Linked DNA regions of Homo sapiens: regions 1, 3 and 4 are each reported to be linked to region 2. Evidence: microRNA targets listed by miRTarBase, many of them from high-throughput screens and not tested one by one. Region 2 holds a microRNA gene; each other region holds the end of a gene's coding sequence.

The links. The annotated mature microRNA hsa-miR-5579-3p reads UUAGCUUAAGGAGUACCAGAUC and lies in region 2 at 1,066-1,087, shown strand. An mRNA with a match to its seed (bases 2 to 7 or 8) in the 3' UTR can be bound and repressed. Matches are read on the target gene's strand: a 7mer-m8 pairs with bases 2 to 8, a 7mer-A1 pairs with bases 2 to 7 and ends in A, and an 8mer does both.
Region 1: the mRNA of EPM2AIP1 is a reported target of hsa-miR-5579-3p. Seed matches in the 3' UTR shown: 7mer-m8 at 2,845-2,851.
Region 3: miRTarBase lists RNF125 as a target of hsa-miR-5579-3p. The part of its 3' UTR that is shown has no 7-base or 8-base seed match.
Region 4: miRTarBase lists CLIC5 as a target of hsa-miR-5579-3p. Seed matches in the 3' UTR shown: 8mer at 1,883-1,890.

Annotation. Positions count from the first base shown.
Region 1 is chr3:36,987,702-36,991,868 of GRCh38, reverse strand. It overlaps EPM2AIP1 (EPM2A interacting protein 1), which reads left to right. Exons shown (of 1, transcript NM_014805.4): 1 at 1-4,167. The coding sequence ends at 615. Among named protein-coding and RNA genes, the nearest start is that of EPM2AIP1, 3.3 kb to the left of the region's middle. RefSeq lists a silencer at 574-623.
Region 2 is chr11:79,419,089-79,423,255 of GRCh38, reverse strand. MIR5579 (microRNA 5579) reads left to right here and starts at 1,030; the gene lies at 1,030-1,087. The region is part of intron 1 of TENM4 (teneurin transmembrane protein 4); the gene reads left to right. RefSeq lists an enhancer at 3,513-4,167.
Region 3 is chr18:32,067,815-32,071,981 of GRCh38, reverse strand. RNF125 (ring finger protein 125) reads right to left here. Exons shown (of 6, transcript NM_017831.4): 6 at 1-3,684. The coding sequence ends at 3,598. Among named protein-coding and RNA genes, the nearest start is that of RNF138, 22 kb to the left of the region's middle.
Region 4 is chr6:45,899,472-45,903,638 of GRCh38, reverse strand. CLIC5 (chloride intracellular channel 5) reads left to right here. Exons shown (of 6, transcript NM_016929.5): 6 at 384-4,167. The coding sequence ends at 551. Among named protein-coding and RNA genes, the nearest start is that of CLIC5, 110 kb to the left of the region's middle. RefSeq lists enhancers at 874-1,718, 1,422-2,621, 2,023-2,711.

The sequences.
Region 1 (4,167 bases), not on the chromosome of region 2:
TTTGCTGCTGCTGCCTTTGACCATATTTGTACTTTCGAAGTTAAGCTGAATTTATTTCAAAGACATATTGAGGAAAAAAATCTAACAGACTTTCCTGCCCTCAGAGAAGTTGTTGATGAGCTAAAACAGCAAAATAAGGAAGATGAAAAAATATTTGATCCTGATAGGTATCAAATGGTGATCTGTCGTCTCCAAAAAGAATTTGAGAGACATTTTAAGGACCTCAGGTTCATTAAAAAGGACTTAGAACTTTTTTCAAATCCATTTAACTTTAAACCTGAATATGCACCTATTTCAGTGAGGGTGGAGCTAACAAAACTTCAGGCAAACACTAATCTTTGGAATGAATACAGAATCAAAGACTTGGGGCAGTTTTATGCTGGATTGTCTGCTGAATCCTACCCAATTATCAAAGGGGTTGCCTGTAAGGTGGCATCCTTGTTTGATAGTAACCAAATCTGTGAAAAGGCTTTTTCATATTTGACTCGAAACCAACACACTTTGAGTCAGCCATTAACAGATGAGCATCTCCAAGCCCTGTTTCGGGTTGCCACAACTGAAATGGAGCCCGGTTGGGATGACCTTGTGAGAGAAAGAAATGAATCTAATCCATAAGGCTTTGTAGTACAAGATTGAAAAACTCAACAAGAATTTAATTCTAAAAGCAAAAATTGGTTTGAGTTTTCAAGTTTACTAATTTGGATTGTGAGAAAGTACCAAGTACCAGCCGTCCAAACTGATCACAATTAAAATTCTGACAGTTGCCTTTTTTTTCATCTCAAATGGCAGCATGGGACTGAAACATGAGAATGCCACCTTTTTTAAAACTTAGTTTAGTGACAAAGTCATTGTCTTTTATGATATAGTTAATTTTAAAGAGATTTAGTATTAATGTGAGTTGAATTTGCAGTCTGTTTTTTAGGTGTTCTGAAGATAAATGCCAAAAATTTCAGCTCTTATTTTAATGGAGTGTTAAAATTCTGATTCATATAGTCTTAAATTATCAACTCCTTAAATGTGCTTTTGAACCAATTTGCAGAAGCTCACATAGCAAGTTCATAAGTTTCCAAAAAGGAAGCCCATACATAACAGTGGAGGTGTTTTGTCTAACCATCAAAATGTTTGAGACTTTTTTTTAAACATTTCTGAGTTCGAAGGTAATACTGACAGATTTCTTCCCTCTTCCCTCCCCATCACCCACCTCAGTGATAACACATTACTGATAGAGGAAGTCATTAGAATCATTTTTAAGTTTCAGATATAGGAGACTTCATGCAATTTGGAGATAAGACTAATTATTGGGGGTTTTCCTTGGATTTTTTTTTTAATAACTGGGGGCTATTTTATCAGCTTGCCTATTAAAGGACTATGGTAAGTATAGAATCTTAATGGTTGCCAGTTAGTAATTCTTTTTTTTTTTTTTTTTACTGTAGACACAAGTTTGGCCCTATCAAAAACGATGAGGAAAAAAGATTGCACTCCAGGATTAGGAGGTGTGAGATATTTTAGCTTTTTTGTCTTATCTGCGTGGGTATTGCTGCTTTATTTTAAAAAATCCTGCCTAAAGTAAACACTTTGTTTTAAAATGATACAGTATCAGATTTTGTTAGATGCTAGAAATGGATTTATTCTAAAATTTGGAACTGTCGTACACATTCTATATGTAAGATAGCACACAAGTAGAAATATTTAAAAGCAGTCTTATTCACAGATTGCAGTAATTCTGTATTTCTACTAAGATAATCTGCTTTGTGCCAAAACAGTAATTTCCAAACTTCTGTTCACCATGAAAAGGCAATCTTAAAGTTCATTATGTAAAACTAATTATAAACAGGACCCAATTTATATTCATAGATCCTCTCAAGTATTATACAATTTAAAAACTCTTGTTCCAAAGTCCTGTCTTAACTATTGAAACACCTTAATCTGTGGTTACTAATCCAGCAAATTCAAGGAACCAGGCTATGACTAAGAATTTAGGTGGAATTGATGTCTGGGCAATTAAAATAAATGGCATAAGAGCTTAAAAACCAAAGTTGTGCCAGTGGCTTTCAACTAGAGGCAGTAACCTGTCATTCCAGAGGATGCTGAGAAATGTGTAGGGGCACTTTTTTGGTTGTCATATTTACTAGGGGCTTCTGTTGGCATTTAAGCCTAAAGACACTCACCCCTGCAGTGCATGGGACAGCCTGGCACAATGAAGAATTAGCCCTCCCAAAATGTAGATTATTTTATTTCAAGGGATAGGGCAGATTACCATTAGAAGCAAAATTAAAAGTACAAGCTGGGCAAACTGACAGAATACTAGATAGGAGAGACTAATTCCAACCTTCTAAATTTGGCTAGTAAAGTGCAATAAAGGCATTGATAAGTTCTGTTAGCTCACCATAGCACTTGTAAATCAGGAATTAATAATTGAATCAGATTTAAGGGCTCTGTCCTGTTATACATATTTAAGGCAGAAAAAAAGTTACATGTCGATTAGGTACTTATCAAGAATGGTCAAGCTGAGATTTTGGTTAATAGAGTAAGCTTACATATCTAGAGAAACAACATAGTGGAAAACCGAAAAAAAAAAACAGAAAAATCTACCGGTAATTTCCCAATAGCTTTGAATATTCACAGCAGAGCTTTATTACTTGAGAGAAAGACTGGAAGACCTGAAAGCCACTTCTGCTTTCTAACCCCAGTTCCTTAAATATTGAAATCTTGTACATTTTGTGAAATTCCAGTATGTTTTGCTTAAGGTGTTAATAAAATTAGTTTGCATCATGTAGTCATTGAGTGAGGGGGAGATATAAGCCAAGGATTTTAAATTGACCCTTAGCTATAGAGAATTTGCTATAAGCTAGTCTTGTTTGTAAAAAAAAAAAAAAAAAAAGAAAAAGAAAAAAGTGTATTTTACTGTTTTCTGTATTAAGTAATTCTGTAACTGCATGGCAGTCTTTTTTTTTTTAAATAAATATAGTTGTTACTGGTCCTGTTGTAGCAGTGAATATAGTTAAAATACGTACATTAAAAAAAAAATTATTAGGTCCTTACCAGTTACTGTCCTATAGCTCATTCCTACTAGTTTTCTTGACAGATTTGTATTCCCAGTGTCCCGTATTGCCACTCAAATTGCTCTACTATGCTAAGTCCTTGTTAATAGTCTTACCCTCCTTGAAACACTTGAACACTTGATGACTTTAGCTTTGAGGAGATACCATCTCCAGGTGTGCTTTCTTAGTCTTTGCAGGCACCTCTTCCCTTCAATATCTGTTCTTCGTATTTTTAAAAAAATTTGTTTTAGACTGCCTTGTTCTGTGTCAGCTCGCTAGCTGATCTCATTTCCTTCCATGGTTTCCTTACCATTTATATGCAAATGACTGTCAGATTCATATCTCCTTTCTAGATCTTCCCTAATTGATGTATCTAATTGCTAACAAATGCTCTTTGCTGTCTCAGGCACTACATGTCATTGATCTTGCCCCCAATCCTGCTCCTCCTCTCATGTTTCCTCTTTGACTAAATGGCATTACCACTACCAACCATTCATTTGTCCTTTTTACCAATTCTCCAATGCTGCCATTTTAATTCAGGCCATCAACCTACCTAAATTATAGCAACAGCCTCCTTATTAGTCTCCCTGTTTTTTATTTTTATTCCTTTCTACACTACAACCAAATTGCTCCAAAAGACTTACTGATCATGTCACTGCATTGCTTTCACCATTGCTCTTAGGGTACAATACAAATTTATCTTCATCTTTAAGGTCTCAGTATGCCACTTCATCTAGGAAACCTTCATTGATGCCCTCTAGATTAGGTGCCCTTACTATCCATTCCCTATACACCCTGTTCTTTCCCAGACATACACTTGGCACACTTTATTGTTACTGCTTATTGATCACTGCTAGACTGTAAGCTTTGTAAGGGCAGGGACCATATAAGCCTTGTTCACTGTTATATCTCTAGTGCTTAGCACAATGCCTGGCATTTCAATAAATGTTTGGACAAACGAATATTTGTGTAGTGTTTTACAATTTTTGAAGCTCTTTCACAGTCTTATTTGACCTTCACAGTCATTCTGCCTTAGACTGTCCATTGGGTAACTTTTATCCACATATTACTAATTGAAAAATGAAGACAAGTTCTTTGTAACTAGGGACCTCGTTGTATTCTCAGA
Region 2 (4,167 bases):
GAGATAATATAGGTAAAGGATCTGGCAGGGTGCCTGGCACATGGTAGGTGCTTAGTCAATGTTACCTCTCCAGTTGGAATCTTCCTGTTCTCTTCCCAGTATCTGTGCTTTTAGGGACAGCATAGTCTTTCTGGATGACACAGGCCAATGGCATGGGACTCCTTGGGGGATTGGGTTTAGGACAGCCTCCCAGCCTTCTCCTTTTAACTTAAGCTTTGGGATTGGGTCCGGCATCCTTGGAAGGCTCACCAGTTGGTCTACTTTAGAAGACAGGATGCAAAGAATTCCCTCTGATTCAAATGGCCCAGCTGAGCATACTTTCAGTTTAAAAATAAGTCGGCCTATCAGAAGGCTGTTTTAAAATGTAGAGGTGACAAGCAAATGCCTGCCTTACCTTTGTACAAAGAGGAGTGATTAGAAGAGCCAAAATAGAAGCCCAGAGAGGCTCCTGGGCCACAGTCCCTGCCCCAGGCCCAGAACCAGCCTTGGGTCAGACCCTCCCTCCCTCTGTTCTACCAGGGAGCCAAGGTTGCTGTAAGGAAAACAAGAGGAGTGTGGTGTTTTGTAACTATTTTTATACCTACCTCAGACTTGATGTTAGTGCTTCTGAATTATTTAACATTTTTCTTTCTCAGCTGGCCTCTCCAGCGAGTTTCTCTCTTGGGGTGGAGGGAGTTGTTTTTTAGGCACTCATGGAGGCAGACAAACATTGACTGCAGGGCCTCTGCTTTTTTTGGGGAATGACATTCTTAGGTATCCTATTATGAATTAGGGGCCCCATATTAAACATAGGTGACAGGTATTATAGATGACAGGTATCTAGTCTCCATGTTACAAAAAGAGATGGTAAGTAAATTGCCCAAGACCACACAGCAGGAAGTGAAGGAATCAGGATTCAAACTCTGGTCTTTCTTACTGTAGAGCTGGTGCTGCTTCTACTGAGCTGGACTGCTGCTGCTCTGTCCTTTACTCTGTGTGTGTGTGTGTGTGTGTGTGTGTGTGTGTGTAAGAACCATGTGGGTGATTTAATATGGTACTCCTTAAGCTAACAGGCCCCTGTCACCATTAGCTTAAGGAGTACCAGATCAAATCACCCACAAACACTGTGGAGGTGAACAGAGTTGAGAAGATGAGCCTCAGAAGGTTGAGCACTGAGAAGCAGGGATGTGGTTCCCTTGGTTATTGCATCCTGGGGGAATGGGAAGATTGTTGCAGCCCTAGCAGGAGGTCCCTTCATTGCACTTCACAGGCGCCACGTGTGGGGTGTGCGTTAAGAGCCCTTCCCTCACAGTCTAGCCAGCCTCTTGAAAGGGGTATCTGCACCTTGGGCCTCATTGAAGGGGGTGATGATTGGCAGCTCTAAACCACCCCGACAACAGGAGGGAATGAACTGGACTCTTATCTGCTGCCTCTCATAATTAAAGTCCATCATAGACTTTTAATGGGCATTTTGAAATAGACATCCTGGTTTGAAAGGAATCCTACTGTAGATCGAGATCAGCCTCCCTGCAGAAGCACTGTCTTGCTGATAACTGTTTTTTTTTTTTTTTAATTTCAGAGCCAGGGAAGATTACACATTTTCCTTGTTCCGTTCCTTTAGCTCCTATTTAATTATTGGTGACCTCGAGATGACTCTCTTTCAAGCATTTTAAACTCCTCATTCTACCTTGTGTGAAAACCCCGTTAGAATTATAATATGAACTCTCTCTGGGAGATAGCCCTCTGCAAATTAGCTAGGAACACTTATTTCAAAAGTGCCCATCGTTATAGTTTCAATAAAAATCACTGGGGTAAAGCAGTTGTTAGTAATGTTAATAACAGCTGTATTTTGATAGGAATGCACTTTATGACTATATCAAGCGATATCACATTCTGTTAAATAAAGTAATATTTGACACAGGTAAATTCCTTGATATTAAATTTCAGATAGCTGTATGAAATACTAGGTTCTCCTTCACATACATATGGATGAAAGTGGCCCTACCTTTTTTTTGAGGGGGGGTGACTTTATTTATGAAAACATATAGACAAGGTAATGGAATGATATTCCAAGATAGCCTCTTATGTGAAATAATTTGATTTAAAGCTTTATAAGCATTGCAAAAATTGACCAGTGTGCTTTCGAATGCCTCTACTTGTGATTTTGCAAAGAGAAAAGCAAAGGGAGAGTAGGGAGAGTCACGTTTAAAAAATAGTTTACACATTTAAAAAATACTCCCTACCAGATACCTTTGTGCACTCCTCGACTCATCTAATGCACACACAAGCACTCTAGAAGCCTGGTTTTCACTTACAGCAAAGCTAAGTGAAAGCTTTGGAAGGTTTGGAAAGCTTTGGAAACTTCTGGAAGTTGAAGTATCATCCCTGAGGCTACACTGCTGGTGGAATTAGCATTGAACCTGGGTTTATCTGACTCTGGAGTGACTGCTCCTACCTCTGTCCCATCCCAGCTCCAGGGACTAGGTTTCAAATATTTTTTCCGTATTGTGTGGATGTGTGAGCATGTGGAGGGGTAATAGTTTTTTCTTTTTTCCTTTTCACCATAGGAGCAAATAACCATCCCCCACCCCCCAAAAAAAAACTGGTTTGTGTCCAAATAAGTTTGATAAATGCCAAATTAGAGAGGTTAATGTATTTTCATGCTGCAGAAAGTCTCAGAGTCTTCACTATGCTTATGCGAATCTCCAAGAGAGGCATAAATAGCACATAAGAGTTCCCAAACTTCTAATATGAGTTTTCTTTTTTCTAAAGCAAAACCATTTTTAGCACTCTCACAAGAGTAGGGTTTCTTCAGAAGCTCTTTGGGAAGTGCTAACTTTGTGGATTTCTGAATCTGTAGGGTTCTGATTATGGTTCCTGTCTTAGTGATATGGTCCAAGCAGGAAGCTTGGAGAGTCCTGCAGGGGCTGAGTGTTTCCCTCTTGGGAGGCTGCAAGCTGCCTCTCTTTCTGACATCTTAGTAGTTCAGATAAATGAAATGCGTTTTTGTTCTAACCCTTCCCAACCTATTTTATGGAAAACATCAAAGTATTTAAATACAAAGAGTAAGGATTTAACATGTTAAAAAAATGTATTTCAAATGATCAGGAGGGAGAAAACCTTTACCATAGATTGGGAAGGATTTGCATCCTTGAAGGAGCTAAAAGACAAAGATAAGCTTTTAAAATACATATATGGAACAAAGAGAACACAGTGGGTTGGATTCAAAATATTTAAATCTGTCTTATTCCATTAAGGGAACTTTAAAATAAATGGTTTCTCATTCATTCATTCTCTCTCTCACTCACACACACATGCACATACACATAAAATATCACATAGGAAGTCTCATACTCAAACTCCCTCCCCGCACCCACCTTGTATCTTGAAGGAACTAAGGAATAATTTGGCTCACCTAGGTAGCTGGGGAAACTGAAGGCCCAGAGAAGGGAAGGAGTTTGTGCCAACCCACGAAGCCAGTTCATGGGACGTCAGGCCAAGGAGTGGAGATGTGGATGATGTCTGACATGCTTTGCACCCCTACTGTGTAGCAGACCTAATCTCTTTACCTCCTTACAACCAACCAGGTTATGGGTGTTATCTTCATTAAAGCTGAGGAAATGAAACTAGGAAATGTCAAGCAACGTGACCCATGGCTGGTAACTGGCCTCATAGTGGGATTTGAGCCCATACAAAGTACATATCACACTGTCAAGTCCAGAATGTGAGTTTCCTTTTTGCCAATCTAATTTAACCATCTCATCCACTATCCATCCCTGACTTACTAGACAGAGCAAGGTAGCCACCCAGTTACCTTCTGATGAGTCAGGAGGGAACACATCCATCCCCGTGCCGTGGGTGCTAAGGGTGCCATTGGGAACATGGAGGAAGGGAGCTGACCTCTTACCTGTGGGTGTGAACAGCTCGACTGCCCTGTTCCCAAGTGCTCTGGTGGTTTATAAGCAGTGAGGTGAGTCACAAAGCAGACAAAGGCCACTGACTCAGCGGGTAGAGGGAGGTGCCCTCAGTTCTTGATTCAACATTGCCATGACTTGCTGGGAGTGGTTTTTGATCCTTCCATGTGTTTTTGAAAAGCCAGGTAGGCTTTTCATCTCCTTCACCACTTTAGATGCGAGTTTGTCCTGGAGGCAGGGAAATGGCTCAGCTGCCCTCGTGGGCTTCTGTCAA
Region 3 (4,167 bases), not on the chromosome of region 2:
GAACTCCTGGGCTCATGAGACCCTCCACCTCAGCCTCCCAAAGTGCTGGGATTATAGGTGTGAGCCACTGTAACCAGCCAGATTTTGCTTTATTGTATGATCCATCTAAATTGAAGAAAGAGAGGTTGTGGAACTAAAAATCAGTTGTTACTTTTTAGCAGCTGTGAAAAGCAAACTTAAAATCAATATCTAAAAGGGAGGATATGAGGCTCACTAGATTTCATTCAGCTTTACATTTTCCCAATTATTTGTACTGGATAAAAGAACTGTAGCAAGACCTTTAAGGAGTTACAATAACTTATAGAAAATTTTGGGTACCATGGTTATGACTATGCTTATATGTAAGGAACAAAGAAGTTTATAAATGATTACAATTAAAAAGCTAACTCTAGTCAAGTAACGTTTTATCCTCAGGAGTTGATATTACTTATTTTCATGGCTTCTTTGCATCCTTACAAGATGGAGATACTAATCTATGCCCTGGATTCATAATTAAAGAGTCAGATATGAGAAACAGTCAGAGCCATCAAATAAAAACTGGGGGCAATTGCCTGGCGCGGTGGCACACACCTGTAATCCCAGTACTTTAGGAGGCCAACACAGGTGGATCACTTGAGGTCAGGAGTTCAAAACCAGCCTGGCCAACATGGCAAAACCCATCTCTACTAAAAATACAACAATTAGCCGGGTGTGGTGGTGCCCACTTGTAATCCCAGCTACTCGAGAGGCTGAGGCAGGAGAATCACTTGAACCCGGGAGGCGGAGGTTGCAGTGAGCCAAGATCACACCACTGCACTCCAGCCTGGGCAACAGAGCAAGATTCCTCCTCAAAACAAAACAAAACAAAACTGGGGGCAAGTGTTAAATATATAGTTGAAGAACTAAGAATAAATGGGGGATAAAAGGAAGAAAGTACAGTATGCTATACCAGTATGTTCTGAAAATGTTGACATAGTATAACTATTTTAAAAATTGGGATGTCGGGCGCAGTGGCTCACACCTGTAATCCCAGCACTTTGGGAGGCCGAGGCAGGCGGATCACCTGAGGTCGAGAGTTTGAGGCCAGCCTGACCAATGTGGAGAAATCCTGACTCTACTAAAAATACAAAATTAGCAGGGCGTGGTGGCGCATGCCTATAATCCCAGCTACTCGGGAAGCTGAGGCAGGAGAATTGCTTGAATCCAGGAGGCAGAGGTTGCAGTGAGCCGAGATCGTGCCATTGCACTCCAGCCTGGGCAACAAGAGCGCGAGACTCCATCTCAAAAAAAAAAAAAAATTGGGAAAGAATGAGAAAAGCAAATGAAAACTTTTTAATTGTTTCAATTGCCATATTATTTGTGGTTGTATTTCTATTGTTATTCTGAGACAGCTGTAAGTGTAAGATAAATAAAAGAAATGAGTAATTGTGGGATGTTCTAATTCTATCGTGCCCTGTGTTCTTGAAAACCAGGACTTTCAGTACAGAAGGAGAGGTACAGTTGTAACAGAAAGGTTAGATAAAAACCCTGTAGGCCGGGCACAGTGGCTCACGCCTATAATCCCAGCACTTTGGAAGGCTGAGGTGGGCGGATCACAAGGTAAGGAGTTTGAGACCAGCCTGGCTATTATGGTGAAACCCTGTCTCTACTAAAAATACAAAAATTAGCTGGGCATGGTGGCTCATGCCTGTAATCCCAGCATTTTGGGAGGCCAAGGCTGGTGGATCACTTGAGTTCAGGAGTTCAAGACCAGCCTGACCATTATGGTGAAACCCCTCTACTAAAAATACAAAAATTAGCCGGGCATGGTGGCGTGCACCTGTAGTCCCAGCTACTTGGGAGGCTGAAACAGGAGAACTGCTTGAACCCGGGAGATGGAGGTTGCAGTGAGTCGAGATCGTGCCACTGTACTCCAGCCTGGGCAACAGAGTGCAACTCTGAAAAAAAGAGAAAGAAAAGGAAAGAGAGAGAGAGAGAGAGAGAGAAGAAGGAGGAAGGAAAGAAAGACACCGTGATTTACAGTCTTGCCAAAGGACTGAACCTAAGTCTTCTCAAATTCAATGTGCCTGAACCTGCACTGTGTGCTAATATCGAGAGGACAGGGCAATGTGCTGAACCGTGCCATGAGTGTGCAATCAGCAAAATACAAAGTATGGGAAACTCTATAGGTCCTAGGATCAGGTTCTTCACCAGGTAAATTTTAAGGAACTGGAAAGAAGGAGGAACTTCTAGATTAAAAAAGAGATGTAAAATAAAATATACATTTAATAACAACTTTAAATTGATAATATTAAAATATAGATATATGCATTTAGGTGTGGCAGCAGTAATCAAATGCAACAAAGTGATTACCATTTAAATCAGTCTAGCAGTTACTTTTGTGGGGTTGTAATTGTGACAGGACACAAAAAGGACACGTGGGGTGACTGGCTGAGTCCTAAAAGAGTATTTCCTTATAATAAGGCATTCAGCTATAAATTTTGTGTCTGGTTTTCAGTACTTTTATTTCATAATTTTTAAAATGTTACAATCAAAAAAGATATCAAAGCCCTTAGGGTTTTCTACTAAAAAGTCTGGATGTGAATACTTATACTGTAAGTATCATCTGATGGTTTTTAAGAAATTGCTTATATTATAGAAATATTTCTAAATAAGCTATAAATATTTGAAAAATATTGAATTCTTATGTATGCAGTTATAAAAAGTCAAAGAATTAAGTATACTTTTCTAACACAAAATTTGTTTTGTTACAGTATTATGTAAGACAATTTGGTTAAATGGATTTTTTTTTTTTTTTTTTTTGAGATGGAGTCTAGCTCTGTTACCCAGGCTGGAGTGTACTGGTGCGATCTCAGCTCACTGTAACCTCTGCCTCCCGGGTTCAAGTGATTCTTCTGCCTCAGCCTCCCAAGTAGCTGGTATTACAGATGCCCGCCAACACGTCCAGCTAATTTTTGTATTTTTAGTAGAGACGGAGTTTCACAGAGACCAGTGTTGGCCAGGCTGGTCTCGAACTCCTGACCTTGTGATCCGCCTGCTTCAGCCTCCCAAAGTGCTGGGATTACAAGCGTAAGCCACCGCGTCCGGCCTAAATGGACTTTCTTGACTTCCAAAATTTTCCTTTCCAACTCCCATACAAGATTATTAACGTTAACCTATTAGAGATTAGAACAAGAGCATTGGAGCAGATTTCTTATTTCTTTGAATGTCTGCACTTTGTTTCACTCTCCATATTTTTTTACACAGAACAAAGATTAGTTATCGTGCCTAACCATGATGGTAGTTATTGATATGTAGCATTATACACAGAGTATTATCTAATTTGCAAACCGAGATCCTCCACCTACTTGCCTACCACCTGTCTTTTCCATGTAACAATGACTGATGTAGATAATTTTTTTTGTTGTTAGATGTGTAAGAATCTCAAGGATGTAAAACAGATTTAAACCATTAAAATTAAAGCAGTTTTTAAATGCACTATAACAATAAACATGGACAAACACATAACTGTGTTGTACATTTTTGCCCATCAATCATTGACAACTTCCCTCCCATTTGTTCAAGCAGCATCTTAAATGGTGCAATTCAGTGGTCCCTTTTCCCTTCGTTTTAATAAAATTATGTGGTGTTCGAGTGATTCACATATTCAAGAAGTGACCGGTCTAAGACTCTTCGGATAAGAGCTTCCTCAATTATATTAAAATCCTACAATAAAGAAAAATAATTAGAAATATTCAGAGTCAATAGTATTTCAGAAACTAGAGGATGAGGGTCAATGCAACACCCTCATTTTGTAGGGAACTAAAGTTACGAGACTTGTCCAAGGTTCCACAAAGCCTGTCATAGAACCCAGGACTTTTGCTTTGGGGCTAATGAATTTTCTACTTCACTTTGTTGTCTATCGATTAACTAGTTACTGTCATAATAAACAGTCTTGATTTGAAATTTGAAGTTTTTATCTGATATAATGAGAAGTTTTTAGTCACCATTACAAATCCTGGTCAGAGTGCTATGTTCCACATAAACCTGTAAAATGGAGCAAAGTTCAGGCTCCCCCACAGGCTTCACCAATGCCAGCAGTACCACTGAATGGCTACTTCTGAAGAAAATGTTAAAAACAAAACTTTCTCCTTGCCTCCTATGTGTCAAAGTGGAATTCAAAATTCTATGTCAGCACATTCTATAAGT
Region 4 (4,167 bases), not on the chromosome of region 2:
ACATTTTATTTGTGTAAGATAATGTATGTATTCATATATTGTTGGACTTTGGCGCTGTGCACCATTTTTGTTATTCAAAATAGCTCTGGGATCATAATTGTGTAGGTAAATCTTTATATCCATCCATGATTATTTCCTGAGAAAAAATTCCTAGAATTTGACACACTAGGTCAAAGGGCAAATTATGTTTACTTAAGAAATTAAATTAAAACAAAACAAAAAGAAGACAGCACTGCCACCTTGCATTTCAAACATATCACTGATGGCCCGTGGTGATGCACGGAGGTTTCCTGCAGTGCACACACACTGGGACGGCCACTAACACTTTCTAATGATTTGTTTCATGCCTTCACACCACCTCTGTCCTGCCATCTCTGTTTTAGATTGTGGCCAAGAAATACCGCAACTATGATATCCCGGCTGAGATGACAGGCCTGTGGCGGTACCTCAAGAACGCCTATGCCCGTGATGAGTTCACCAACACCTGTGCAGCTGACAGTGAGATCGAGTTGGCCTACGCTGATGTCGCCAAACGCCTCAGCCGATCCTGAGCACAGCCATTTTGCCCCATCCCCGCTGCAGAAGGACTCAACCACTCCCCTAAGACTCCAGCTTCATAGACTCCTCTGTATCACTGCCTTGAGGCGCACTTTTTATAATCAAGCCTCATCTTGCTGGTATCATGGGAACTCCAGCCTGCTATCTTTCATGAAGGTCAGCACCATCCCTGGCCTCCTCACATAGGAATCTAGCAGAAATGATAGACACAGTCCACCTTTCGGCCGGCCAGCCTGATCTGGGCTCAGCATGTTTGGGGTCAGTCAGTGTTGGAGAGCCCACATATGGGATTGCCACTAGCTTCTTCTGCCAATATCAAAATACCTTCTCAGATGCTTTAGAAACATGCAACACCAACTCCTTTTCTACCCTCCTCTCCGTCCATACCTACAAGGCCAAGGACAAACGCCATCTTCATCCTTCTTAGAAAGAGATCTATTACCCCATTAGGGGAGACAGAGAGAGTGAATGGAGGAGTACCGAGCTGGCTATGGACTTGGGTGTCTGGCAAACACAGCTTCAGTCTCACTACTTCTGACACTCTGGTTATTGGGCACTAAGGGCCAGACTGGAAAGTCACTTGAGACACATTCTCAGTTTGTTGCAGTGCCAGGAATGCTGCGCTGCTGCTGCTGCGCACCTGGCCCATGCTGTCCCTGGCTTCCATGCCGTCCAGGCCCTGCCAGAAAAGGAAATTGGCATGCAATTCTAAACTGCAGTGACTGGGATGGGAGGGGAGGGGAGCAGTGTTGATGCCAAAATACCCACGGGGTCTACCAGCCATGGGGTTTGCTTGCTTAGGAGTAGTTGTTTCAGAGGTGATTACAGGCCTGGGTTTGACTGTGCTTACCAATGAGTGGTTTTTGAGCTATGAGAAAGTGGATGGGAGTGGGAGGAGGAGAGATGGGTGAAGACAAAAGAGTTCTTTATGAGCCTCGATGTTCCCTGGTAAACTTTTAAAAAGGCCTTCTCTCATGATCTAAGTCTTGGACTGGTGGCATCATGTAACTGCTAACCTTACAGTAAAAACCCAAGAATGGGTCAAAAATGTCTTCCCAGTTTCTCCAAGCTGCTTCTGGAATGCAGGTCTGTCGGCTGGGTGCTCTCCAGCAGCTGCTCCTGCCTGATTCAACTGTAGCCTGTAATGGGTAAAAGCCACATTTAGGAGGTGGTCTGATCATAGAACACCTTAGGAAGAAAGTCCATGAGACTTTCTGACTAGGAAACCATGTGGTTTGAACTTGAAGAAAAATGTAGACCCATCTGGGTTAATTTTCCTACAATCTGACTCAACTGCCAGGTGAAAAAAAAAAGGAAAAATTTTTAAGCTAATATTTCACTCTTTTGTCATTCTCCTTAAGTTTCATCTCCTAAAAAGCTTACCCAGCCTGAGCTTGGGGACCTGTGCAGAGGAAACTAAGAAAAATGCACTCATCAACTCCTTCTCCCAGTGAACGCCCGGTGAGAAAATCCATTTGCCACAGGCCCTTACCTTCAACAATCCCCCTTCTATAGTGTTCGCTGGTAAAGGGTGAGGCTCCCAAGTGCTGGAAAGCCCCTGGACTTGGCTCATTTCTCAGCAAGGGCAGGATAGCACGGGTCCTTTCCATAGAAATATCAACAAATTCTAACCCAAGCAATCCCTGGACCTACCTGCCTCCAGGGATCTCTGAAGAAAAAAAGTAACCCATTGATCAAATCAGAGGAGAGGAAGCAGGAGGTCTCCTAGAGCCCATTGAGGAAGAGGAACTTTCTCAGTAGGACACTTTATAAGCCTGAGAAAGCTTTGAAAAGGCGGAATGAGTTGATTCATTTCCACCTCAAAAGGAACCTTTCCAGGTCCCCCTGGAAATTGTGCCCTGGAGATGTTTAACAAGGAGAACTGGTGAGGAAAGAGTCCTTTTTTACTGTAGGGAAAAGCCCCAAACTGGCCTCCTGGGGGATGAGGGCTGAAATGATCCCGAAGGCCTTTTAATTAGTGTGAAATCCTGCTGTACTCAGAAATCCTTCCCCGAATTTACAGCACAGGCAGGATGACCTAAGAGGCAGTTTACTTCCCTGAGACCCACAGTTGGGCTGTTCTGGAAACACATCTGTGAATCATAGCCAATTGCCACAGAGAAAACAGAACCAAGCCTCCGGTGAGGCCACTCCACCCCAGAGAAGTCTGCAGAATTCCAAGGACTCGGATTGGATGTTCAGAATTCAGCAACTGGAAAGTCCTTAAAAACAAACAGGCCAAACCAAATCAATATTGCTGTTTCTAGATGTCCCTTCTGTGGTTGAGCTAGTTTTACAGAGATAAATATATTAAGACAAGGAGGTGGGGGTGTTATATGATCAATGATAGCCATTTGAAAGAGAGGGAGGAGTACAGAAGGAAGGCACTTCTGGGTACTTAATTCAGAAATTTCTTTATATTTCAGCACTGGATTATCATATAATGCAAGTGACTATGGACTAAGAGTTAGTTATGGTGTCTTATGACTAGATTTATTATGGTATATTAAAGTAACAATAATATTAATATTACCTTCCTTTTTTTTTTTGTTTCAAAAGAGATCTTTCTCCAGATGCTTCAGCCTGTCTGGCCTTCTTATCATATGTGCAGCACATCATGTCTCAGCAACAGTGTGGTGAGGTCCTTAGGTGTCCCAAGAACAACTCAGGGAGCACGGGAGGGTCTGCAGTTGGGACCCCACAACTATACAGCTATAGGGTAGGAGGCTTCCTTTTCATTGGTCCTGAATGAATACAAATCGCTCAGAAAGCATTTTGGTGGCACAGAAAGGGGATGTATTTGTGTTGAGATCTTATTTTATTTTGTATTTATTTATCTTCTTTGACTTGCACAGCACTATTGGGGGTGGGGGAAGCAGGGTAGTGGGAGACGAAGGCAGAAGCAAGAGTCAAACTCAGAATGACTGAGTTGAATTCACTGTCTAGTCAGCAATGCCTGCTTCTGAGTTTGGCCCAGAGAGAAGGTATTGAGTAAGATTTTAATAACTGTAAAAAGTAAGCTGGATAAGTAAAATCATGATGGATCCAAAGCACAGTTTCTTCATCTCCTGATAAAGAAAGTCAAATGCTTGATAAATTCAGAGTCACAGATGTGAGCATAGCTATATTCTTTTAAACGAGAGGTAGAGTGACCTAGCACTAAGCAAATGAGCTGAAATGTCGGAAACAGAGTCCATCAGCTTATTTGGCCACACGATCCCAAACTAGTTTTATCTTGGGAAATGGCCCTGTCCTCAGCATTCCCTTCTTGTGCTGGTGGGGCCAGTGAAGTCTTGATCTTATCAGAAAAAGGCCACACCAAGTGCGAGTTTTCCCAGGCTGACTTTCCAGGCCCTTATCAAATGAAACAACAGAAGCTCTTCACAGTTCTGTGCCCCATGGCCACTCCACAGACAGACAATACCAAGCATCTTAGAACTGTCATAAGATAGGTCATGCCTGAAATAGATCTTGACCATATGAGAGTCCCAGAAATCAGCAAGGCCTGGACAAATAGAACTAAGAGAGAGGCAGAGGCAGGAAGCTGCGGGTCTATCTTGTAAAGAGTTTAGCATCACTGTGAGAGTGTGTGTCTAAAATTAAATTAAA